Regions from separate parts of the Homo sapiens genome. Here all the other regions are linked to region 1. The links come from fine-mapping of genetic effects on gene expression. A gene starts in region 1. Each other region holds a variant in brackets. All regions are shown on one strand. Distances are between the middles of the regions.

Region 1 (4,087 bases):
CGCGAGGCCGGGCCGCGGCCGCCGCGCCCTGGGGCTGCGACTCCGGCTCCGGCTCGGGCTCGCCATGGCTGCGGCGGTGCCGTGAGGAGGAGTCCGCGTCCTCGGTGGCGGCGGCGGCGGCCGGCTCCAGGCCGGGTTTTGGCGCCGCCCGCCTGCTGCCTCCTGGCGGCTCCTGAACTCCAGCCCCCTCTCTATCAGCCGCTCACTCCGTCTCAATATGTCTCAAGATGGCGGCCAATGTGGGATCGATGTTTCAATATTGGAAGCGCTTTGATTTACAGCAGCTGCAGGTCAGGCTCCTCCGCGCTCGGCCTCGCGCCCGGGGGTGGGGGCTGCGGGCGGTCGCGGCCTCCGCCGGGGGCCCCGGGCTGGCCCAGCCGCCGGGGGGCCCGCGGCGGCGGGGAGGAGGGGGGTGCCGGGCACCGCGGGGCCGAGTCGGGGCCGAGTCCCTCCCGCTCCCCGGCCCCCATTGATCACTCGCTTGATCGGAAATTGATCCTCTTTGTTCAATTCATCGATCAGCCCAAGATGGCGCCGGGAGCCGCCGCCGCCACCACTGCCCCCGGTGTCTGCCCCCACCCCGGGCGCCCCCCCGGGCCCCGCGCCGCCGCCGCCGCCAGCGCCGCCGCCGCCGTTGCCGCCGCGGGACCGGGGAGGGGGCGGCCCCGGCGGCCCGCGGGGTGCGCGCGCGAGCGGGGAGCGGGGAGCGGGCGGCGGGGGGCGGGCGGCGGCGGGCGCCGGGAGGGGGCCGCGGCCCGGCGGTGGCGCCCGCCCGCCCGCTCGCCCCGCGCCCCCGGCCCGCCGTATTCCCGGGGAAAGTTTGTGGGGAGTTGCTGCGGGGGGTGAAGCGCCTGCCTCTCCAGGAGGAGCCGCCGCCACTGCCGCCGGCGCGGCGGAGCTGGGGCTGGTGGCGCTGTGGTGCCGCCGGCTCGGGGGAGGGTCAGAGCGGCCACCGGCGGCGGCGGCGGCGGCGCGGCCCGGCTCCGGCCAGGCGGGCGGGTGGCCGGGCAGGCGCCCGCGCTCGCTACCCCCGGCCGGCCCCGGCCGCCGCCCCCGGCTGTCACCGGCCCGGGCCGCGCCGCCGCTCCGGCACCCCGCGTGTGGCTCCCGGCGCGGACCCCCGGGTTTGTTTACGTCCCGGGGAGCGCCCCGGGGCCACCCGCGCACCTCGCGGCCGCCGCGCTCTTTTGTGTGCCTGTGTCGGTGACGCGGACCTGTTCCTCCGTGGCGGACCCCCGCGGGGGCTCTTTGGGGAAACTTGGCGAGGGGCGGCGGGGGTGCCCCGCGCGCAGTGTCGCTGGGTCCCGGTGTCCCGGACCGCCGGGTGCGGGCGCGGGAGGAGGAGGCTGCAACTTTCCCCTAGGCAGGCCCCAAGCTGTTCCCCCGGGTGCCCGGGCAGTGTACGCTGCCTCCCCGCCGCCGGTCCGAGCCGCGATCGCCGCGCGCCTGGGGGCTCCGGCGGCCCCCGGTGACCTGCGGCGCCGGGTCCCTTCCTTGCGTCCCCTCGGGGCTTCTGCCCTCTCTGCAGGGCCCGCCATGGAGCGCGCGGCGGGTGCGCTCGGAGATGCCTTCTCGGGCCGGGTTCTCGAAAGCAGAGCCCCGGGGGCCCGTTGGGACCGTGGCATGCCGGGCGGTGGTCCGCGCGCGGAGTCCCCGGCGCCGCGGGGGGACCGTGCCGGGGCTCCCCGGCCCGCGCCCGAGTCGCCGCCGTGCCCAAGGGGCGAGTGCCTGCCTGCCACCCCCCGCCCGGAGGAGCGGCGCACCCTTAGGGTCCGCCCCGCACGTGCCAGCTCGGCGCCCGCGGCGCCGGGACAGCCCCGGGACTCTGCCAGGTGGATGTTGTGCGTAGCCGGAGCCAGGTTGAAGGTGAGCGGCGTGTGGGCCAGAAGTCCCGAGGTTGCAGGCGCGGAGGGAACCGGGGATGTCGGGGGGTGCCCGGGTCCCGCGGCTTAGAATGCTCTAGGGCGGCCTGGTGCTCTGGGAGGGGATAGGAGGGTTCCTCAGGGCCCCTGGGGAACTGCAGCTACTCCCAACTGCTAAGGTGTGCGTGAAGATAAACTTGGCTGAACTTTCCTAACCTGGAGGACTGGTGACAGTGACCTACCGCAATACCTTTGGGAGCAAAGCTCGAGATGCAGGCTTGTATCAAACGAAGCGGGTTGGATTAAAACATATTTAAATGGAATCTGACAACTTTAATTGTATATGCTTGTTTTCTGCTCTTGCCTACTAAGAACGATAAAGCCGAGTCATAGTCGTTATGAAATTTCCTGAAATTTCTCGCTTAACTAGGAAGAAGACTATGCGAAATATGTATTTCCGATAAGATTAAAACTTAAAGGAGTTTAAGTATTTATTGACTAAAATAGATTACTCCAAAGTGTCTATTGTGTAAATTAGATTCCTGGATGTAATGAACACAGCCGAATGGCATTTTTGATAAATTGGTCTACCCTGTTTTAGTAAAAATAGCTCCCTTTTACCATAATTTAATTCCTGTGCTTACTGTAAAACCCGTTGTGGAGTTTTAAGGACAAACATTATTATTATTTTTCTCTCTTGTCTTCCTAAATGTGACATCCTAGCTTAATATCAATGAAGTGTCTTTTTTAAAGCATCCTGGCAAAATTGCCTGGAAAATGGATTTGGTTTCTAGAGTTACTAGATTTTAAGAACTCTAAACCTTCCTGTCCCCCATATTAGCTACTTCTTCAGGGGATCAGGGCTCCAGGGTTCCATCGAAAGTTTCCATGTCAGTTTACTTGCACTTTATGTGGATATTAAGAAGAAATCAAAACCAAACCCCAAAACAAAGTCCCTTATTTGAACTTCATTCCTCTTTACTCCTTTGCTTTTGGTGGTTGCTAACGATTTGGCCTTAGATGATTTCCTATGGGTTTGCAAACTTTAGTCGAATACGGAATGTCAAAGTTCAAGTCTCAGGCCAATCTGGTTCTTTCTCTGGGCGGTGAGGAGGCCTTTGGAGTTGGTGTCTGGTTAATTCCCACCGATAGTCAGTGAGTCAATAGAACGAGTTTGGGAGAGAATTCATTAGTTCCAGATTTTTCTCATTTTTCCAGACCTCTTTATACTGAGATTGGGTTGCCACCTGGGGGTAAAGAGGCTGATCGGTCTTTGCAGAGAGAAATCCAGGTTGGAGACGTCAGCGGGTCCAGGTGAGGTTGGGCCGTTCCGCAGTTCTGCAACCCTGGCTCACTGGGTTCTTGTCCCTCGGCTTCCTGGGTCTTGAAGCTGCTGCCTTGGCACAGGAGTGTGTGCTCAGGAAGAGAATTTCTGAAGATTGTGTTTTATTCCGTTTCCTTTTTAGTCCCAAAGGCTTGTGGTATGGAAGTTTCAGTGCTTTGGTATTGCTAAGACTAGTTGGACAAGTTTTTTATCCTATCTCAGACTTGTAAAAACCAGGTTTTCTTTTCTTTTTAAATAAGAAAAGCACTGTTGTATAAATTTGTCTTTTAAATACATATTTGAAAGGAGGACACTTTCTAAGACAAAGCTCATGGCACTCTGTATGTTAGTGGAGCTTTGAACTCTTTGGGACGGGGCCCGCCAATGACTGCCTTCCCTTTGGGACATTATTCCCACATGGTGACCAGCCTTCCCCTTTAAGCAGCTTCTGCAAAAGTAAACTTGAAAAGTTGCCTTCTTTTTCAGAATCAAAAAACAATTTCAGTTTTGCTGAAAGTCCATTTTCTGATGGCTTTTTTTCCCCCTGTTGTGGAAGTGTGTATGTTACTGGCTGTCCAGTACTGTTTGCCATAATAAGTATATTATTTTAATTAAAATGTCCCATCTAGTACCCTTTATAAAAGAGCAGTTCAAGAAATTACACCACTGCTGCTCCTGCTTTTGTTTTCTTGGTTCTTTTAATATGGGTGTCTTTGAGGTTGGATGTGGGAAGGGGTCATTGGCAGTTGATTTAAGTTTTTTCCTATGTGAAACTCTTTTTTTCCTTAAAGGTGCAAGTGGTGAGTTAATGCAACAACTCCTGGTACAGTTGAGTCCACAGAGAGCCCTTTGACTACATCCTCGGCTTCGTGTATCTTCTGTCGGTAGTTAGCCAACCTAA
Region 2 (4,087 bases), 240 kb after region 1:
TAGTTTTAGCTCATATATTTTGGTCTTTGATTTATTTTGAGTTAATTTTTGCATATGGTGTGAGGTAGGGATCAAACTTTGCTCTTTTGCATGTGGATATCTGGTCGTCCCAGCAACATTTGTTGAAACACTGTTCTTTTACCCTTGAATTGTCATGTCACTCTTGTCAAAAATCAGTTGATCATAATATGAGGGTTCCTTTCTGGGCTGTATTGATCTGTGTGTTTATCCTTATGCCCCTACCAGTTCAGGTCAATGTAGTTTTGTATTTAGTATTGAAATTGGGAAGTGTGACTCCTCCAACCTTGTTTCCTTTTTCAAAATTATTTTGGTTATTTGGGGTCATTGCATTTTCATATGAATCTTAGAATCAACTTGTCAATTTCTGCAAAGAAGCCAGCTGGGTCTAGGCACAGGGGCTCTTGTCTGTGATTCTAACACTTTGGGAGGCCAAGACGGGAGGATCACTTGAACCTAATAATTCAAGACCAGCCTGGACAATATAATGAGATCTCATCTCTACAAGAAAAAAGTTAAAGATTAGCCAAGCATGGTGGCGCGTTCCTGTAGTCTCAGTTACTCCGGAGGCTGTGGCAGGAGGATCACTTCAGCCTGGGAATTGGAGGTTGCAGTGAGCTGAGGTTGTGACAGTGCACTCCAACCAGAGTGACAGAGTGAGACCCTGTCTCCAAAAAAAAAAAAGCCAGCTGGAATTTTGATAGGCATTACCTTGAATGTGTAAATCAACTTCGTGACTATTGCCATCTTAAAAATATTAAGTCTTCCAATCCATAAGCATTGGCCATCTTTCCATTTAGTTTAGTGTCTTTCAGCAGTGTTTTGTGGTTTTTAGAGCACAAGTTTTGTATTTCTTTTGCCAAATTTATTCGTAAGTATTTTATACTTTTTGTGATGCTATTATAAATGGATTTTTTTTTTTTACTTTCACTTTCAGATCATTTATTGCAAACATGTAGAAAGACAAATGTTTTTTTACAGGGATACTTTGTTGCATTGAGCTCCACTTTTTTATGCTTTGAAGATAGTGTGTTTCTTCAAAAATGGAAGTCTGTAGCAACCCTGAGTCAAACAAGTGTGTCAGCATTATTTTTCCAACTGCAGGTGCTCACTTCCTTTCTCTTTGTCACACTTTGGTAATTCCCACAATATTTCCAATTATTCACTATTATTATATCTGATATGGTGATCTGCAGTCAGGGAGCTTTGATATTACTATCATAATTGTTTGGGGACACCACAAACTGTGCCCCATATAAGATGGCAGACTTAATTGATAAATATTGTGTGTGTTCTGACTACTCCACCAACCAGCTGTTTCCCATCTCTTCCTGTCTTTGGGTTTCCCTATTTCTTGAGACACAACAATATTGAAATTAGGCAAATTAATAATCCTGCAATGGCCTATTAAGTGAAAGGAACAGTCACATGTCTTTCACTTTAAGTCAAAAGCTAGAAATGATTAAGCTCAGTGAGAAAGGCGTGTTGAAAGCTGAGGTAGGTTAAAAGCTGGACTTCTTGCACCAGTTAGCCCAGTCATTAGTGCAAAGGAAAAGTTCATCAAGGATATGAAAAGTGCTGCTCCAGTGAACACATGAATGATAAGAAAGCCTTATTTCTGATAGGGAGAAAATTTTGGTGATCTGCATAGACGATCAAACCAGCCACAACATTCTCTTAAGCCAAAGTCTAATTCTCTTAATTGGGTCTTAATTGTCTCAAGCCAAAGCCCTGACTCTTCAATTCTATGAAGGCTGACAGAGGTGGGGAAGCTACCGAATAAAAGTTGGAAGCTAGCGGAGGTTGATTCATGATGTTTAAGGAAAGAATTTATCTCCATAATACAAAAGTGCAAAGTAAAGCAGCAAATGCTTTGGTGGAAGCTGCAGCAAGTTATCCAGGAGATCTAGCTAAGATAATCAACGAAGATGATGGCGCTACACAACAGATTTTCAATGTAGGTAAAATAACCTTCTCTTGGAAGAAGATATAATCTAGGACTTGCATAG[G/T]TAAAGAGAAGTCAGTGTCTTGTCTTTAAAGCTTCCAAATGCAGGCCGACTCTCGTTAGGGGATAATGCAGCTGGTGACTTGAAGTTGAAGCCATTGCTCATTTACCATTCGGAAAAATCCTAGGGCCTTCAGAATTAAGCTACACCTACTCTGCCTGTGCACTAGAAATGGAATCATAAAGCCTAGATCACAGCATCTGTTTATAGCATGTTTTACTGAATATTTTAAGCACACTGTTGAGACCTACTGCCCAGAATAAAAAAAGGTTCTTTTCTTTTCTGAGACAGTCTTGCTCTTGTCACCCAGGCTGAAGTGCAATGGCATGACTTCAGCACACTGCAACCTCTGCTTCCCAAATTCAAGTGATTCTTCTGCCTTAGCCTCCTGAGTAGCTGGGATTACAGGCTCCCACCACCATGCTCGGCTACTTTTTGTATTTTTAGAAGAGATGGGGTTTCACTATGTTGGCCAGGCCAGTCTTGAACTCCTGACCTCGTGATCCGCCTGCCTCAGCCTCCCAAAGTACTGGGATTACAGGCATGAGCCACCACACTCGGCTGATAAAAAGATTTTTTGTTTTTTGTTTTTTGTTTTCTGGTTTTTTTTTTTTGAGACAGAGTCTCGCTCTGTCACCCAGGCTGGAGTCTAGTGGTGCGATCTCGGCTCACTGCAACCTCTGCCTCCTGGGTTCAAGTGATTCTCCTGCCTCAGCCTCCCGAGTAGCTGGGATTACAGGTGTGTGCTACCACGCCTGGCTAATTTTTTGTATTTTTATTAGAGATGGAGTTTCACTGTGTTAGCCAGGATGGTCTCGATCTCCTGACCTCGTGATCCGCCCGCCGCAGCCTCCCAAAGTGCTGGGATTACAGGCATGAGCCACCGCGCCTAGCCGAAAGGTTCTTTTCAAAATATGACTGCTCATTGACAGTGCACCTGGTCAACAAGAGCTCTGGTGGAGATGTACAAGATGAATGTTGTTTCCATGCCTGCTAACACAACCTGCATTCTACAGCACATGGATCAGGGAGTAATTCTGACACTCAAGTCTTATTTTTTAAGAAATACATTTTGTAAGGCTATAGCTGCCATAGATGGTGATTCCTCTGATAGATCTAGGCAAATTAAATAGAAATCCTTTCCTTCTGGAAAGGAGTCACCATTTTAGATTCCATGAAGAACATTTGTGATTCATGGGAGGGGGTTGAAATAGCAACATGAACAGGAGTTTGGAAGAAATGGATTCCAACCCTCATGGATGACTTTGAGGGGTTCAAGGCTTCAGTGGAGGAAGGAACTGCAGATGCGGGGGAAATAGCAAGAGAACTAGAATTAGAAATGGAGCCTGAAGATGTGACTGAATTGCTGCAACCTCATGATCAAACTTGAATGGATGAGGGGTTGCTTCTTATGATGAGCAAAGAAAGTGGTTTCTTGAGATGGAAACTACTCTTGGTGAAGATGCTGTGAATATTGTTGAAATGACAACAAAGGATTTAGAATATTCCATAAACTGAGTTGATAAAGCAGTGACTGGGTTTGAGAGGATTGACTCCTATTTTTTAAGAAGTTCTACTGTGGGTAAAAATCTATCAAACAGCAATGCATGATACACAGAAATCTTGTGTTAACGAAAGAGTCAATCAAGCTAGCCAATTTCATTGTTGCCTTAACAAATTGCCACAGTCACCCCAAGCTTCAGTAACCACAACCCTGATCAGTCTAGCAGCCATCCAACACCAAGGCAAGACTCTCCACCAGCAAAAAGATTACAACTCCCTGAAAGCTCAGATAATCGTTAGCATATTTTGGCAATAAAGCATTTTTTAATTAAGATATGTACATTTTTGAGACATAGAGCTATTACATACTTAATAGACTATGATACAAACATAACTTTTATATTCACTGGAAAATCAAAAAATTTATGTGACTTGCTTCATTGCAATATTTGCTCTTTTTGTCATATTTGCCTTTTTTGTTCTATTTTTGAGACAGTCTCCGTCACTCAGGCTGGAGTACAGTGGCACAATCTCGGCTCACTGCAACCTCCACCTCCAGG
Region 3 (4,087 bases), 25 kb before region 1:
GGCCACAGCAAATCCTGTGAGGTCCCCGGAACTGCGTTCACCCATCAGGGTTGTCCCACCCTGAGGCATGGGGACTGGGCCTTTATAACCCCTACACTGAGAAGCCATAGATGTTGGCTGCCTTCGGGGAGGGCCATGGACTTGACCAAGGTGGCTGTCTTTGGGGAGGCTATATTTGCAAAAGGACTCAGCTAAAAGCTGTTAGCCACCAGCATTCCCAGCAGCGGGGCACTGAGGGTGTCAGTCCTGAAGGAATGACGGGCAATGCTCCACCCTCCACTGTGCAGCCAGACCTACTCCCCACCTGGTCAGAGAGAGGAGCCTCACCTCGGAGGAGGGACCTGTGCCCTTGGCCTTATAGCACAGAGAAAACAAGAGAAAGCAAACTTGTTTCCAAAAGACCATCATAAAAATACTCTTTGTTGATTTTTCTTTTTTTAATTAAAACATGTTTTGTTTTGTTTTTTTTAATTATCAGTCATAGAGATGGGATCTCACTATGTTGCCCAGGCCGGACTCGAACTCCTTGTCTCAAGCAGTCCTCCTGCCTTGGCCTCCCAAAGCTCTGGGATTACAGGTATGAGCCACAGCACCCAGCTCCCTCTTGTTTTTAAATCGTTTTCCCCTCCCCTTCTCCTGTTTGAAGGCAACATGGCACAAGTCTTACTCTTGAAGCAGCAGCCTCTCTGACCGTAGAGAAAGAAACATCTGTGGAGAGTTTTCAAATGGCAAAAATAATGACAGTAATCAGCCGTCTTGTTACTTCTTGGGGACTGGGTGAAGTCAGTCCTTATTCAAAGAGATGGAATTTTCAGCATGGTTCCAATATGTCTTTTAATGGTTACACACATAGGTCCCTGAAAAGTATCCATGAGAAATAAAAAGAGCTGGGCTGTTTCTTTGAGTATTCTTTCAGCAGAAAAAAAAGAAAAAAGAGAAAACTGACTTGAGGGTATTGCTAAAAGATTTTCTGGTGTGGTTTTCTTTTCTTTTTCTTTCTTTTTCTTTTTTTTTTTTTTTTTGAGACAGGATCTTGTTCTGTCACCCAGGCTGGAGTGCAGTGGCATGATCACGGCTCACTGTAAACTTGATGTTCTGCACTCAAGTGATCCTCCCACTTCAGCCTCCCGAGTAGCTGGGATTACACGCACGTGCTACCATGCCCAGCTAATTTTTGTATTTTTTTGTAGAGACAGGGTTTCGCCATGTTACCCAGGCTGGTCTCAAACTCCTGGGCTCAAGCAATCTGCCCTATTTGTTTTCATTTGAGGGACAGGGCATCATGTACTATTTAATAAAAAAAAAAAGCGCCAGGCATGGTAGCTCACCCCTGTAATCCCAGTACTTTGGGAGGCCAAGGTGGGAGGATTGCTTGAGCCCAGGAGTTCAAGACCAGCCTGGGCAATATAGTGAAATCCTATCTCTACAAAAAATTTAAAAATTAGCCAAGTGTGGTGGCAAATGCCTGTAGTCCCAGCTACTTGGGAGGCTGAGATGGGGGGATCGCTGGAGCCCAGGAGTTCCAGGCTGCAGTGACTGGTGATCACACCACTGCACTCCAGCCTGGGCGACAGAGCGAAACCCTGACTCAAAAAAAAAAAGGAAAAAAAAGAAAGAAAGGAAAACAAATTGGATCATCAAATTGTCTGAGTCACCTGAGAAACCACAATTTAATGCCACCTTTCGATACCCAG[A/T]GTTCCTATCTTTGAATCAAATTAAGTAGAAAAACAAGTTAAAAAAAAAATCCTTAAATAATTATGGAGGTGGGCAGAGGGTTTTTTTTTTTTTGTGATCGAAATGGTTGATAATGCTTGTAGAAGAAAGGAAAAACATCTCATATAAAAATTTAATCTGAATGTTTTTGTTGTTAAAAGTCTCCTGTGAATCATGAATTATGAAAAACATGACCCAGGAAAGCTGTGAACAAGTTGATTCAAGTATCTCAGGCATGTGATGATCTCACGCCCCAGTCCAGCTTGGCTTCTGGGACGGTTAGGATTTTATCAGGTTCAGGGAACACTGATGGCCTAATTCTGGCTCCAGGCCTCACCCGGCTCTTTTCACACTGGCGCCAGATGTTTGGGAAGTTTTCAGGAAATTGTGGAAAACCAGACCTCAGGCTGGTCACCTTCCAGCAAGGTAGGAGGTGGCTGGTATGGTTTTCCCATTATTTTTTTCTTTTCCCTTTTTTTTTTTTTTGAGACAGGGTCTTGCTCTGTCACTGAGGCTGGAGTGCAGTGGTGTGATTTAAGCTGACTGCAACCTTGACCTCCCAGGCTCTAGCGATTCTCCTTAAGGATTGCAACCTCAGCCTCCCAAGTACCAGGGACTACAAGCCCACACCACCACACCTGGCTAATTTTTTTATTTTTTGTAGAGACGGTGTCTTGCTATGTTGCTCAGGCTGGTCTCAAACTCCTGGGCTCAAGCAATCCTCCCACCTCAGCCTCCTAAAGTGCTGGGATTACAGGCGTGAGCCACCGTCCACAGCTGCTCACCCATTCTTAAATACAAAAGGAGACCCTGAAAATAAACTGTACAGAGGGATAGATTAGACCTCATGACCCTTGACCTTTAACTCTTCACTGAGGAAGGAGCCCGGCTCCTTTTTTCCTACCTGCACTCATCAGACATTTATTACACGTGGTGGGGCGTGGTGGCTCACAGCTGTAATCCCGGCATTTTGGGAGGCTGAGGCGGGTGGGTCACCTGAGGTCAGGAGTTCGAGACCAGCCTGGCCAACCTGACGAAACCCCGTCTCTACTAAAATTACAAAAAATTAGCTGGGTGTGGTGGCGCGTACCTGTGATCCCAGCTACTCGGGAGGCTGACACAAGAGAATAGCTTGAACCCGGGAGGTGGAGGTTGTAGTGAGCCTAGATCGCGCCACTGCACTCCAGCTTGGGCGAAAGAGCGAGAGTCCGCCTCAAAACAAACAAACAAAAAGACATTTATTAGATGCCTACTATGTGCCAGGCCTGTAGAGAAATATGACAAGGTCTCCGCCCTGAGGTGGAGCTCAGGTCAGTGGAAGAAATTGGAAAATAACTGAAACACAGTGAGACCAACAGACTGCAGGCAACATCCGATTCTGAGATGAAATCCATGTGACGTGCTCTGAGGGCCAAAGGATAGCCTTGGCCTGGAGAGTTGGGCACCCTTACAAAGTGGGACAGAAGACATGCCCGTCCCTTGCATGGAGTGATTAAACCCCGGGCAAAGAAAGGAATCAGTGATGACTCTGGTGCCTGGGACGTTCAGATGCGGGTGGATGTTAGAAAACGCTTTAACAACTGTCCAATCAGAAGGGAGGGGCCCTGACCAGTCATGGTGGACGCTGGCCATTAAAGGACTGTGGGGCCCTATTGGTGTACATGGTGTCTGGGGAGCAGGGAGGAGGGAGGATTCTGGAGGGCTGGAGCACTGATGGAAGGATAGAGGCTGAGACTGGAAGTAGGGGCTTAGAGCTTAACTCCAGGGAAAATAGCGAGGAGCGTGAAAGACTTGCCGGAGAGAGGCCAGGCGGGGCACAGTGGCTCACGCCTATAATCCCACCACTCTGGGAGGCTGAGTCAGGTGGATCACATGAGGCCAGGAGTTTGAGACCAGCCTGGCCAACATGGCAAGACCCTGTCTCTACTAAAAATACAAAAATTAGCTGGGTATGGTGGTGCACACCTGTAATCCCAGCTACTCGGGAGGCTGAGGCCGGAGAATCGCTCGAACCTGGGAGGCGGAGGTTGCAGTGAGTTGAGATTGCACCACTGCACTCCAGCCTGGGCAACAGAGGGAGACTGTCTTCAAAAAAGGGAAAAAAGGAGAGATGCCAGAGGTAAGCATTTCAGGAGGCTCACCCAGGTGGCCCTGGAGAATGGCCACTGGGTGACTTGGTCCCTAGATCCTGTGAACTTGAGAGTATAGAACCCAAGGGGGAGGGAATGAAGGGAAATGAAAAGCAGAAGCAGGTTGGGAGCGGTGGCTCACACCCATAATCCTAGTGCTCTGGGAGGCCGCAGATCACTTGAGGCCAGGAGTTTGAAACAAGCCCAGGCAACATAGTGAGACCTCATCTCTATTAAAAAAAAAA
Region 4 (4,087 bases), 220 kb after region 1:
TTGGGAGGCCGAGGTGGGCGGATCACAAGTTCAGGAGATCGAGACCATCCTGGCCAACATGGTGAAACCCCAGCTCTACTAAAAATACAAAAATTAGCTGGACGTGGTGGCATATGCCCGTAATCCTAGCTACTCAGAAGGCTGAGGCAGGAGAATCACTTGAACCAGTGAGTCAGAGGTTGCAGTGAGCCGGGATCGTGCCACTGCACTCCAGCCTGGTGACAGAGAGAGACTCCGTCTCAAAAAAAAAAAAAAAAATACAAAAACAAAAAATTAGCTGGGTGTGGTGGGTGCAGGCCTGTACACCTAGCTATGCAGGAGGCTGAAGCAGGAGAATCACTTGAACCCAGGAGGCAGAGGTTACAGTGAGCCGAGATCGCGCCACCGCACTCTAGCCTGGGCAACAGATCAAGATTCCATCTCAAAAACAAACAAACAAACAAAAAACCCTACTAACAAACTAGGAATAGAGGGAAACATCTTAGGAATAGAGGGAAACTTCTTTAATGTGGTAAAAGGTATTTATCAGAAACATACATTAATCATCAGACCCAGTGGTGGTAAAAAAAAAAAAAAAAAAAATTCCCAGAAAACCAGGAACAAGACAAGAATACCTACTATTGCTACTTTAATTAACACTGTACTGCAAATCTTAGCTAGCAGAGAAGACAAAAAGAAATAAAGTACAGATAGCTCTTGACTTACGATGGTGCAACTTTAGGATGATGCAAAGAAACTGTACTTTGAGTACCCATACAACCATGCCGTTTGTCAGTTTCAGTACAGTATTCAATAAATTACATGAGCTGGTGAATACCTGATGATAAAATAGGCTTTGTCTTGGATAATTTTCCCCAACTATAAGCTAATGTAAGTCTTCTGAATATATTTAAAGTAGGCTAAGCTAAGCTATGATGTTTGCCAGGTTAGTTTATTAAATACATTTTTGACTATAATATTTTCAGCCTACAGTATAAGTATTGCAACAGAAGAAATCAAACTGTCATTTTTCAAGTGAGCCTCAATTATTTAACCAGGTTACTAGATACAAAATCAATATACAAAAGTAATTATATACCCCTGTATCAGCAGCAAACTTAAAAAGTCATTTTTAAAAAGGATACTACTGGAGATAGCCAGCCAAAAAAAAAAAAAAAAAACTATAGCTAGAAATGAATGTAACAATACAAGGGAAATCTTTCTAGAGAAAGATGTAACATTTATATTGAAGGATATTAAAGGAGAGTTAAATGGAGAGAGAGAAAGTATACAAGGAGAGAAATTTCCACTACTATTGAAGCGATCACTTTTCTCCAGATTGATCACAGAATCAGTCATTGTAGTTCCAGTAAAAATCCCAACAAAATTTTTTTTGTTTTGAGACAGAGTCTCGCTCTGTCACCCAGGCTGGAATACAGTGGCACCATTTCAGCTCACTGCAACCTCCACCTCCCGGATTCAAGGTTATCTCCTATTTGATCTAAAATCAAATTTTTCTGGTTATCCCTAAGATTTCTTTTGTAACGGCCCTCCCTGCAGCTGAGGTCCAATCAGGTTCACATATTACATTTGTGTAATCCCAAGTAGCTGGGATTACAGGCGCCTGCCACCACACCCAGCTAATTTTTGTGTTTTTAGTAAAGACGGTTT[C/T]GCCAGGCTGGTCTCAAACTCCTGACCTCAGGCGATCAGACTGCCTCTGCCTCCCAAAGTGCTGGGATTACAGTCATGAGCCACCGAGCCCGGCCCCAGCAAGAATCTTAATGAAACTTTTGAAAAGCTGATTCCAGAATTTTTATACATATGCAAGAACAAATGGTAAATAATAGTGAAGATAATACTGAACCACTCCAAGTTAGAGGAATTGCCCTACCAGATTATTAAAGCTGCAGTAGTTGGCAGAGAATGAGATAAATAAACCAAAGGAACACAATAAAGAAATCAGAATCTGGCCGAGCGCGTTGGCTCTTACCCGTAATCCCAGCACTTTGGGAGGCCAAGGCAGGAGGATCACTTGAGGTCAGGAGTTCCATACACCAGCCTGACCAATATGGTGAAACTTCGTCTCTACTAAAAATACAAAAATCAGCCTGGTGTGGTCACGTGCTCCTGTAGTCCCAGCTACTTGAAAGGCTGAGGCAGGAGAATTGCTTGAACCCGGGAAGCAGAGGTAGCAGTGAGCCGAGATTGTGCCACTGCAGTCCAGCCTGGCCCACAGAGTGAGACTCCATCTCAAAAAAACAAGCAAACAAACAAAAAAAAAAAAAAACACCGGAATCTGGCCTATGCATATATATAGAAGCTGAATAAATTGCAAAGATGGTATGGATCAGTGAGGAAAGGGGGGACTTTTCATGGTCCTCTGACGATTGGCAAATCCTTATAGATTAAACGAAGTTGAGACCGAGTGCACTGGCTGCTATCTGTAATCCCAGCACTTTGGGAGGCTGAAGCAAGCAGTTCCCTTGAGCCCTCGTGTTAGAGACTAACCTGGGCAACATGGTGAAACCCTGTCTGTACAAAAACTTACAAAAATTAGCTGGGTGTGATGGCACACGCCTGTAGTCCCAGCCACTTGGAAGGCTGAGGTGGGATGATTGCTTGAGCCCACAAGTTGGAGACTTCAGTGAGCTGTTGATCGCGTGCCACTGCACTACAGCCTGGCTGACAGAGCAAGATCCTGTCTCAAACAGACAGGCAAACAATTAACTAGAGTTGGAGCCCTACCTTACACCGTGTGGAAACACAAATTACAAGGAGAGTCTTAGATCAAAGCTTTAAACTTTATAGAATAAAATATAAAAGATGATGACTTTGGGCTGGGTAGAATTTCTTTCTTTTCTTTTCTTTTTTTTTTTTTTTGAGACGGAGTTTTGTTCTTGTTGCCCAGGCTGGAATGCAATGGCACGATCTTGGCTCACCACAACCTCTGCCTCCCGGGTTCAAGTGATTCTCCTGCCTCAGCCTCCAGAGTAGCTGGGATTACAAGCATGCGCCACCACGCCCAGCTAATTTTGTATTTTTAGTAGAGACAGGGTTTCTCTGTGTTGGTCAGGCTGGTCTCGAACTCCCAACCTCATGTGATCCACCCACCTCGGCTTCCCAAAATGCTGGGATTACAGGTGTGAGCCACCACGCCCGGCCCTGGGCTGGGTAGAATTTCTTAAACAGAAAACCATAAAAGAGATTGTTGCAGTAAACTACCTTAAAATTTTTAAATAGGAGCTTTTTTCATGGAAAGATACCCTAAAGAAAGTGGAAACATGGCCGGGTGTGGTGGCTCATGCCTGTAATCTCAGCACTTTGGGAGGCTGAGGCAGGCGGATCACTTGATGTCAGGAGTTTGAGACCAGTCTGGGCAACATGGTGAAACCCTATCTCTGCTGAAAATACAAAACTTAGCTGGGCATGGTGGCACATGCCTGTAGTCTCAGCTACTCGGGAGACTGAGGCACGAGAGTTGCTTGAACCTGGGAGGTGGAGGCTGCAGTGAGCTGAAAGCATTGCAGTCCAGCCTGGGCGACAGAGTGAGACTCTGTCTCAAAAAAAAAAAAAGCAGAAAGATAAGGCCAGTACACTGCTAGCTCCATGGTATGTTCATGTGAACTAGAAAAAAGGTTTGCCGTTCTCAATACTTTTCACATCACCTGTTGGAAACTTGCCATAATAAAGATTCATACTTACCTCAGTGTTTACCGTGATAGATTCAGACATCCAGAATGTGAAGCATACTGTCTAGGGCTGTGCATCCCACCGTTGTATGTGGGGTAACCTTGGCCATGATTTACAAATCTGGAAGAGGTAGTTGTCACACCTGTAATTAACAATGTTCACAAGATATTCAAAATGCTCGCATGTCAATGGGGGGAGAAACCCAGTAAGGAAATGAGTACAAGTCATGAGCATAATTGTCAGAACATTGGAATGGTCAGTAGCTATATGAAAAGATGTCTAGGTTGCATAATAACCAGGGATATGCAGATTAAAATAACTCATCTGCAAGTTATTCCTCCTGACCAAGTTGGCTAAAATTAAAAAGTCAAGTTAGGAGCATAAGTTGATTTAAACTTTTTGAAAGCCAATTTGGCAT
Region 5 (4,087 bases), 89 kb before region 1:
GAGAGAAGGCAAACCAGCCCTGGCAGGGACTAATGAGGGCAGTAGCCTCTCCTTGGAGGAGCCAGAGAAAGCTTTGCCAGAGAGGTCACAGGAAAGCCAGTCTTGGAGGGGTTTCATGAGCAGAAAAGGCAGCTGGGACGGTCAGCCAGCAATACCTCTCCAAGATGTAGCACTCACACTGCACCGTAATCATTGGGTTCAGACCAGGCATGGTGGCTTACGCCTGTAATTCCAGCACTTTGGGAGACTAGGGCAGGAGGATCACTTGAGACCAGGAGTTTGAGACCAGCCTGGGCAGCATAGCAAGATCCCACCTCTAAAAAAAAAAAAAAATTAGCCAGCCATGGTGGCACGAGCGAGTGGTCCCAGCTACTCGGGAGGCTGAGGTGGGAGGATTGCTTGAGACCAGGAGTTAGAGGCTGCAGTGAGCTATGATTGCACCACTGCACTCCAGCCTGGGTGACACAATGAGGCCCTGTCTCTAAAAAATAAAAATTAAATTAAATTAAAAAAAATAATCCGGTTTAGTGTCTGCCTCCTCCATCAGACTGGAAACTCATGGAAGGTGAATGACAGGGGCTGAGGTGCAAGTTCAATCAGCCTCTGGCCCTGGGAGGAGGAAAGGGAAAAAGCAAGTTAGGGGATGGGACTGTAGTCGCAGCTCAGAGGCCCTGGGTGCCTCTGACACTGAGGCAGAAACAAGGGGGAGCATTAGCTGGATTTCTATCCTACACGTGTCAGCGGACGTGATGGTTTCAAACTGAAAGTGAGCAATTTGTGGGTCCTTGGGCCACACCTATGAAAGGCTTTTTTATTTTTTATTTTTTGAGACAGGGTCTGGCCAGCTATTTTGTTGTTGTTGTTGTGGAGATGGGGTTTCACTATGTTGCCCAGGCTGGTCTCGAACTCCTGGCTTCAAACGATCCTTCTGCCTCTGCCTCCCAAAGCACTGGGATTCGAAAGGCCTTTTATGTGAAACACTTGTGACCCACCAAAAATCCCATTGTAAGTCCTGTCGCTCTGACAAGCATCATAATCGCGCATCTGTCCAGAATTCTGCATTTAGGAGGAGGCTTTAAAGCCCACGTGCTCAGAGCTACGGTGTAGACCCTATACTCCACCATCCTGCCACAGGATTCAGGGAGCAGCTGGAGGTAAGATAATTGTAGGCTCCAGGCTCTGCACCCTGGGTGGGATTAGCATTAGTCAGTAGGTTTCTCTGTTCCCTCAATCTCCCCGCTCCCGGGACTTGCAAAGCAGTGAGAGTGGGCAACATGCCGTGTAACACAGTTAATTACACGTTGATTGCATTGTGCTGTAATTACTGTTCAGGCGTGTGGGGCTCCTCACCTGCACTGGATCCTGGAACTCAGAGAAAGAAGCTTCTGTCTCCTGTAATCCCAGCACTTTGGGAGGCTGAGGTGGGCAGATCGCTTGAGGTCAGGAGTTCAAGACAAGCCTGGGCAACATAGCGAAACCCTATCTCTACTAAAAATACAAAAATTAGCCGGGCGTGATGGCAGGTGCCTGTAATCCCAGCTACTCGGGAGGCTGAGGCAGGAGAATCGCTTGAACTCGGGAGGAGGAGGTTGCAGTGAGCCGAGATGCCACCAGTGCACTCCAGCCTGGGTGACAGAGCGAGACCCTGTCTCAAAAAAAAAATTAAAAAAAAAATTAAAATTATAATAAAAATAAAATTGATTGTAGAAATTGCACTAATGGATACATTAGAAGCCATTGAATTGTATATTTTTAATGGATGAATTGCATGGTATGTGAATTATATCTCAATAAAGCTATTACTTAAACAGGAGAAAACAAAAAACCCCAGCGACAATCTTCCTCAAGCTCCTTGGCAATAGGAGGCCTTGCCGTCCCCACCCAGCCTGCCTGAGTTCCTGCTTACAGTTGCTTCTTTTTTTTTTTTCCTTTGACACGGGGTCTCCCTCTGTCACCCAGGCTGGAGTGCAGTGGCGCAATCTCATCTCACTGCAATCTCCACCTCCCGGGTTCAAGTGATTCTCCTGCCTCAGCTTCCTGAGTAGTTGGGATTACAGGCACCTGCCATCATGCCCGGCTAATTTTTGTATTTTTATAGAGATGGGGTTTTACCATGTTGGTCATGCTGGTCTTCAACTCCTGACCTCAAGTGATCTGCCTGCCTTGGCCTCCCAAAGTGCTGGGATTACAGACGTTAGCCACTGCTCTCAGCTGCTTCTTAAATGCGGCTGGGGCCAAGCAGAAAAATGGCCCTCTCTCATGCTAGGCAAACGCAGAGCCCACTGGACAGAGTTCCCTGAGATCGAGGCAGGGATGACGCATGGCTGCCTTGTGACCAGCTATCTCTCCGCTCTCTGGTGAACTATCCCAAGCCAGACCGTGGTTTTGTAATTTGAAGTCCAAGGCCGTGAATCAACATAATCTACTTATCAAGACCAAAGGCTGCGGTCGCCGTGCATGTAGAAGGAATAGCTCACAGTGCGTGGCGCCTTCATGCC[G/A]GAGGGCTGGGCCACACCCTGGTGCACACTGGGGGTGGTGCCCAAGGATCCTGCTGGACTAACCAAACACAGCCCTGGGCCACACCTTCCCACAGGCCTCTCAGCCCTCTCAGCTCTTCCACTTGGAGCCTGAGAGTCTGACACCCCCCACCTCACCCCCAGTCAGCTCTGTGACTCCCAGTGCTCTGGCTTTGGGATTTGTTTTGTTTATTTTAGAGACAGCGTCTCTCTCACTGTGTTACCCAGGCTGGGGTGCAGTGGCGCCATCATGGCTCAATGCAGCTTTCAACTCCTGGCTCAAGTGATCCTCCCACCTCAGCCTCCAGGGTACCTGGGATGACAGGCATGTGCCACCATGCCCAGCTAATGTTTTAAATGTTTTGTAAATGTAGGGGGTCTATGTTGTCCAGGCTGGTCTCGAACTCCTGGCCTCCAGCGATTCTCCCACCTTGGCCTCCCAAAGCCTTGGGATTATAGGTGTGAGCCGCCGCACCCAGCCTGGCTTTGGCCTCGGCATTTACGTTATGTTGTAAAACACAAAACTTCAATCAGGGCCAAGTCTTTCAGCTTAAAACCCTTCAGTGCCTTCTGGGGATAAATACTGAGCTCTTGGGCCCAACTTGGTTTGACCCCTGGGAGTCCTACCCCTACTGGGAGCCCCCACAGCTCATCCTCCCCATGGCCCCTTCACTCCAGATACATGGGTCTTATTTTAGCTCTTTGGTTTTTTGTTTGTTTGAGATGGAGTCTTGCTCTGTTGCCCAGGCTGGAGTGCCGTGGTGTGATCTCAGCTCACTGCAACCTCCGCCTCCCGGGTTCAAGTGATTCTCCTGCCTCAGCCTCCTGAGTAGCTAGGATTACAGGTGCACGCCACCATGCCCGGCTAATTTTTGTATTTTTAGTAGAGACGGAGTTTCACCACATTGGCCAGGCTGGTCTCAAACTCCTGACCTCGTGATCCACCCGCCTTGGCCTCTCAAAGTGCTGGGATTACAGGCATGAGCCACCATGCCTGGCCTATTTTAGCTCTTTATAGTCCTCCTGTCCCCTCTTACCTGTGAGCCTCTGGGTAACGTCTTCAGCCTGTTATCTTTGCATCCAGCTAATTAGGTCACTTATTCCTACAGAAACCCATCTTTCAAGGAATGGCCATCCCTGCCAAGGCCACTGAGCCCTGTTGACCCTGGACTCTCTCCTGTCTCTTCCCTGGTGCTGGCCAGTGTGTCCACGTTGCTGTGATTGCTGAATTAATGTCTGTCCCTCCCTCCAGGCCGTGCATGATGACACCCCCTGTAGCTGCCATGGAGCCCAGCACCCAGTGGATATGCAAAAAGCCCACGTAGGCCGGGCATGATGGCTCACGCCTATAATCCCAGCACTTTGGGAGGCTGAGATGATCACTTGAGGCCAGGAGTTTGATACCAGCCTGGGCAACATAGTGAGACTCCATCTCTACAAAAAATTTAAAAATTAGCCACTCATGCTGGCGTGCACCTGTCATCCTAGCTACTTGGGAGACTGAGGCAGGAGGATCACCTGAGCCCAGGAGTTCCAGGCTGCAGTGAGCTATGACTGCACCACTGCACTCC
Region 6 (4,087 bases), 300 kb after region 1:
TCATTCATGTTTGTGAATATAAGCCCCTTGGGGCAAATCTTTTCACATATGGTCTTACAGCATTTCAAAAACAATTTATTTTCCCTCTTCTGAAGGAGGGATTCTTAGGGCCAGGCGCGGTGGCTCACACCTGTAATCCCAGCACTTTGGGAGCCTGAGGCGGGCGGCTCACTTGAGCCCAGGAGTTCAAGACCAGCCTGGGCAACATGGCAAAAGCCTGTCTCTACAAAAAATACAAAAATTATCCTGGCATGGTAGCTCCTAACTGTAGTCCTGGATACTTATGAGTCTGAAGTGGGAGGATCGCTTGAGCCCAGGAGGTCGAGGCTGCAGTGAGCCTAATTATACCACTGCACTGCGACCTGGGTGACAGAGCAAGACCCTGTCTAAAAAAAAAGGGATTCTTAAATATTTGTTGACGGGAATTGGAGAGGCATGAAGGAAGATGGGTTTTGGAGAAAGACTGACTTGGGATTGATTCACTAGGGTCCACTACGAGCTCTCTGCGTGACCCTGAATGAGCTATGAGCTGTCCACCTCCCTTTCTGACCTGTACAATGGGCATACCGGAAGTCAAGTCACTGGGTGGTTTTTGTTGTTGTTGTTGTTGTTGTTTTGTTTTGAGATGGAATCTTGCTCTGTCGTCTAGGCTGGAGTGCAGTGGCACGATCTTGGCTCACTACAACCTCCACCTCCTGGGTTCAAGCGATTCTCCTGCCTCAGCCTACCAAGTAGCTGGGATTACAGGCGTGCGCCACCACATCCAGCTAATTTTTGTATTTTTAGTAGAGACGGGGTTTCACCATGTTAGCCAGGATGGTCTTGATCTCCTGACCTCATGATTCGCCCACCTCAGCCTCCCAAAGTGCTGGGATTACAGGCGTGAGCCACTGCACCCAGCATGCTAGGTGGTTTTGAAGAGGCAGGAATGGGATGTGTGTGTATAGCACCTGGCATGGTGAGAGTCTGAGGCTAAGCTGTCGAGAGATAGAAGCTATTCCCAGCAAGCTCAGAGCAGGGCGTGGTATGCGTTTCTGAAATTAACGGCCTTGGAGGAAATTGACTTTCACCGCATCACCACGACGGACTGGGCCCACATTGTCTGTCTGTCGTGGGGAGATGTCACAGGGTACCCATCCCTCTCCCGTTTTGGAGAGAAGCCCGCAGGTCTGTGGTACTGAGGCTGCTCCGAGACCCCGGTTTATCGTGAGCAGTCATCGCCATGCGTCAGCTGGGACAGCACGGGCTGACTGTGGCAGACAACGGCAGTAAAGTTTTCCATGTGTAGGCTTGAAGCAAAATGTAATTAGCCTTTATGTGCAGAACAAGGGCCCATTGATGAATACAGCTGGTCTTTGTTTTGTCCTGTCGTTGAGAGTGGGAGGTAAAAGTGTTCTTCTTCATGTTTATTAATGCAAGATTCCTTAGACAAATGGCAAGCACAGTTTAATATTTGTTGGAACATGGGGGCTTTGCCAAAACAGTTGTTGTGTAAGAGGATTGCAAGGTTTCCGATTATAACCATTTCTGGGTTAAATAAATGAATTATTTCTGCCCTTTTTTTCTTTTTTGAAATTTTTTTAGAGTCAGGGTCTCACTGTGTTGCCCAGAGTGGTCTCAAACTCCTGGCCTCAGGTGATCCTCCCGTCTTAGCCTCTCAAAGTGCTGGGATTACAGGCATGAGCCACTACGCCTGACATTCTTTTTTCTTTAGTTAAAAACATAGCTCCTTCTCAGATGGTCACCCTGTGTACGGATCTTCCCGCTTCTCTTAGCAAATGGAGATTTACCACCCTAATAGCCTTAACCTTGGAGACTCTAGCAAAGGAACGTGCTGTGGATTTTAACATCTAAACAATTCCTTGGGATGGATGGCCGTGGAGGTGGCAGATCCCTGGAATCACGCAGCAGTAGGCAGCCCAGAGAGAGGCCTGGGCATCCCTCACTGCCCCAAGTTCCTGCATCCGTCTCCTGCAGCTGTTCACTTACTTGATCTTGGGTTTGGGTTGCTACTGCACCCTCCAGCAGGAATGTCGCCCTCCCAGCCAAGCGGCTAGTGTTCTGGGCAAAAATGCAGGAATTCCCATTTTTG[CT/C]GAAGTCCACGATCCTATGCCCTGTCCCCAAGAATCTGGATTGGAAAAGGAGTTCCAGCTGCAATACACACAGTCAGCTTCTTGCATTCCTCCCCACTCGTGGGCCGAGGCACTGAGCCTCGATGAAAGAAAATATTGAATCGCACTGAAATACTACATTTTTTATAGCTAATGTTAGTCTTAGGAGAATTTGCACCTCCCAAACCTTTCCTGCCAGTAAAATTCGTATTTCTTAAGGTTACTCATGTTGTATTCCTAGCCTATATGCTTTTTTCAAAGAACGACATTGTGTATACACATACTTACATAGTACGGTTACAAAAGAGACATTTACGAGGAACTTCACTTAGGTTAATTTTAGAGTATTTTCTTTATAACATGTATATAACCAGTACTTTATCACAAAATACAACGTGCTCTGAAACAGCAGAAAACTTTCCCGTAGCTAACTCAGCACTGGGGAGCCTCTACGCTTCTTTGGAGGGATAGAGAACTCCAGATCCCAAAGGAGGACATAAGACAGAATTTGAAAAGGGGAGGAGGCTGGGCATGGTGGCTCACGCCTATCATCCCAGCACTCTGGGAGACTGAGGTGGGAGGATCACTTGAGCCCAAGAGTTTGAGACCAGCCTGGGCAACATAGTGAGACCCCACCTCTACCAAAAAATACAAAAATTATCTGGGCATGGTGTTGTGCCTTTAGTTCCATTTACTTGGGAGGCTGAGTTGGAAGGTTCGCTTGAGCCTGGAAGTTCCAGCCTGTAGTAAGCTATGATTGCATCACTGTACTCCAGCCTGAGTGACAAAACGAGAGCCCATCTCTAAAAATAATAATAATAATTTTTAAAAGGAGGGGAGGAGGATACCAGCAGTTCAAGACACAAGTCTGCATGGCAAATGTGGGTGGGATGGATACTTTCTTTTTATTTTATTTTTTATTTTTTTGAGATAGGGTCTCTGTTAGTTATTCAGGCTGGAGTGCAGTGGTGCGATCATGGCTCACTGCAACCTCCACCTCCCGGGTTCAAGTGATTCTTCTGCCTCAGCTGCTGGAGGAGCTGGGATTACAGGCTTGTGCCACCATGCCTGGCTAATTTTTGCTTTTTGGTTTTTTTTTTTTTTGGAGACTGAGTCTCGCTCTATTGCCCAGGCTGGAGTGCAGTGGCACGATCTTGGCTCACGGCATCCTCCGCCTCCCGGGTTCAAGCGATTCTCCTGCCTCAGTCTCCCAAGTAACTGGAATTGCAGGCATCTGCCACCACACCCAGCTAATTTTTGTATTTTTAGTAGAGACGAGGTTTCACCATGTTGGCCAGGCTGGTCTCGAACTCCCAGACTCAAGTGATCTGCCCGCCTTGGCCTCCTGAAGTGCTGGGATGACAGGTGTGAGCAGCTGGGATGGATACTTTGTTTACATACTGTTCTGGACTATTTCACAATGATTTCCTGAGTGTTATCTTGTTTGCCCTTTCCTGAAGTCACTGGGGCAGCTTTTATTGTGCTCATTGCATGGATGAGGAAGCAGTCCCAGGAACACGCAGATTCAGGCCCTGGACCTGGTCCTTTAGGCTCAAATTCCAGTGCTTTTTGCTTGAGACCACGGCGGTCTTCAAAGCCCCTTTCTGGTGCCAGCTTTGTAATCAAGCAGCAAAGGTGAGGGCTAGTCAGGTGAAGGCAGGCGTTCCTGGGGGGTTCAGCCTTTCCCAGCCTCACAAGCCCCCGTTGTATTTACCATAGCAGATTGATTTTTCCCTTTTTGAACAATAATTCCTCATGAAAGACTCACAGAACTGGGGCCAGGTAGAGCCCGGTTGAGTAAACCTGAGAATCACCCAGCTGTCTTGACCATCATATTTAGACAAATATTGCATCCCCTGATTGAATTTGAAAGGGACAACTTAAGCATCCTGAAAACAGAGTCTGTCTGCTGTACCTTTAAGAATGTAAAATTTTCTATTTCCTGTCTTTTTGATGAGTCATCAGTTTCCAGTACG

Which allele goes with the higher level. Positions count from the first base shown, and alleles are read on the strand shown. Sizes are in standard deviations (SD) of each study's normalised expression. Not every link is listed here.
For the expression in fibroblasts of the gene that starts at base 1,823 in region 1, allele C in region 4 goes with a higher level than allele T (small effect, 0.18 SD a copy in GTEx).
For the expression in tibial nerve of the gene that starts at base 1,823 in region 1, C is the low allele of the variant in region 6 and CT is the other (small effect, 0.18 SD a copy in GTEx).

What was found. PIP is the estimated chance that this variant, and not a neighbour inherited with it, causes the effect. A credible set is the group of variants that fine-mapping cannot tell apart.
Region 2: its variant is the best candidate, but not a certain one, in a credible set for the expression of CUX1 in whole blood (INTERVAL, PIP 0.88).
Region 3: its variant is the best candidate, but not a certain one, in a credible set for the expression of CUX1 in whole blood (INTERVAL, PIP 0.61).
Region 4: its variant is the best candidate, but not a certain one, in a credible set for the expression of CUX1 in fibroblasts (GTEx, PIP 0.66).
Region 5: its variant is the best candidate, but not a certain one, in a credible set for the expression of CUX1 in whole blood (INTERVAL, PIP 0.59).
Region 6: its variant is the best candidate, but not a certain one, in a credible set for the expression of CUX1 in tibial nerve (GTEx, PIP 0.88).

What each region holds. Positions count from the first base shown.
Region 1 is chr7:101,815,804-101,819,890 of GRCh38, forward strand. CUX1 (cut like homeobox 1) reads left to right here and starts at 1,823. Exons shown (of 24, transcript NM_181552.4): 1 at 1,823-1,866. The coding sequence starts at 1,837. RefSeq lists silencers at 18-247, 833-992, 1,103-1,422, 1,493-1,572, 1,603-1,672 and 1 more and an enhancer at 79-1,007.
Region 2 is chr7:102,054,282-102,058,368 of GRCh38, forward strand. All of the region lies in intron 3 of CUX1 (cut like homeobox 1), which reads left to right. Among named protein-coding and RNA genes, the nearest start is that of SH2B2, 230 kb to the right of the region's middle. The variant G/T (reference allele first, on the strand shown) is at 2,028.
Region 3 is chr7:101,790,563-101,794,649 of GRCh38, forward strand. No RefSeq gene overlaps it. Among named protein-coding and RNA genes, the nearest start is that of CUX1, 25 kb to the right of the region's middle. The variant A/T (reference allele first, on the strand shown) is at 1,695.
Region 4 is chr7:102,034,511-102,038,597 of GRCh38, forward strand. The region is part of intron 3 of CUX1 (cut like homeobox 1); the gene reads left to right. Among named protein-coding and RNA genes, the nearest start is that of CUX1, 220 kb to the left of the region's middle. RefSeq lists a silencer at 2,159-2,361. The variant C/T (reference allele first, on the strand shown) is at 1,651.
Region 5 is chr7:101,727,126-101,731,212 of GRCh38, forward strand. No RefSeq gene overlaps it. Among named protein-coding and RNA genes, the nearest start is that of CUX1, 88 kb to the right of the region's middle. The variant G/A (reference allele first, on the strand shown) is at 2,499.
Region 6 is chr7:102,118,148-102,122,234 of GRCh38, forward strand. The region is part of intron 8 of CUX1 (cut like homeobox 1); the gene reads left to right. Among named protein-coding and RNA genes, the nearest start is that of SH2B2, 170 kb to the right of the region's middle. RefSeq lists an enhancer at 1,030-1,529. The variant CT/C (reference allele first, on the strand shown) is at 2,093.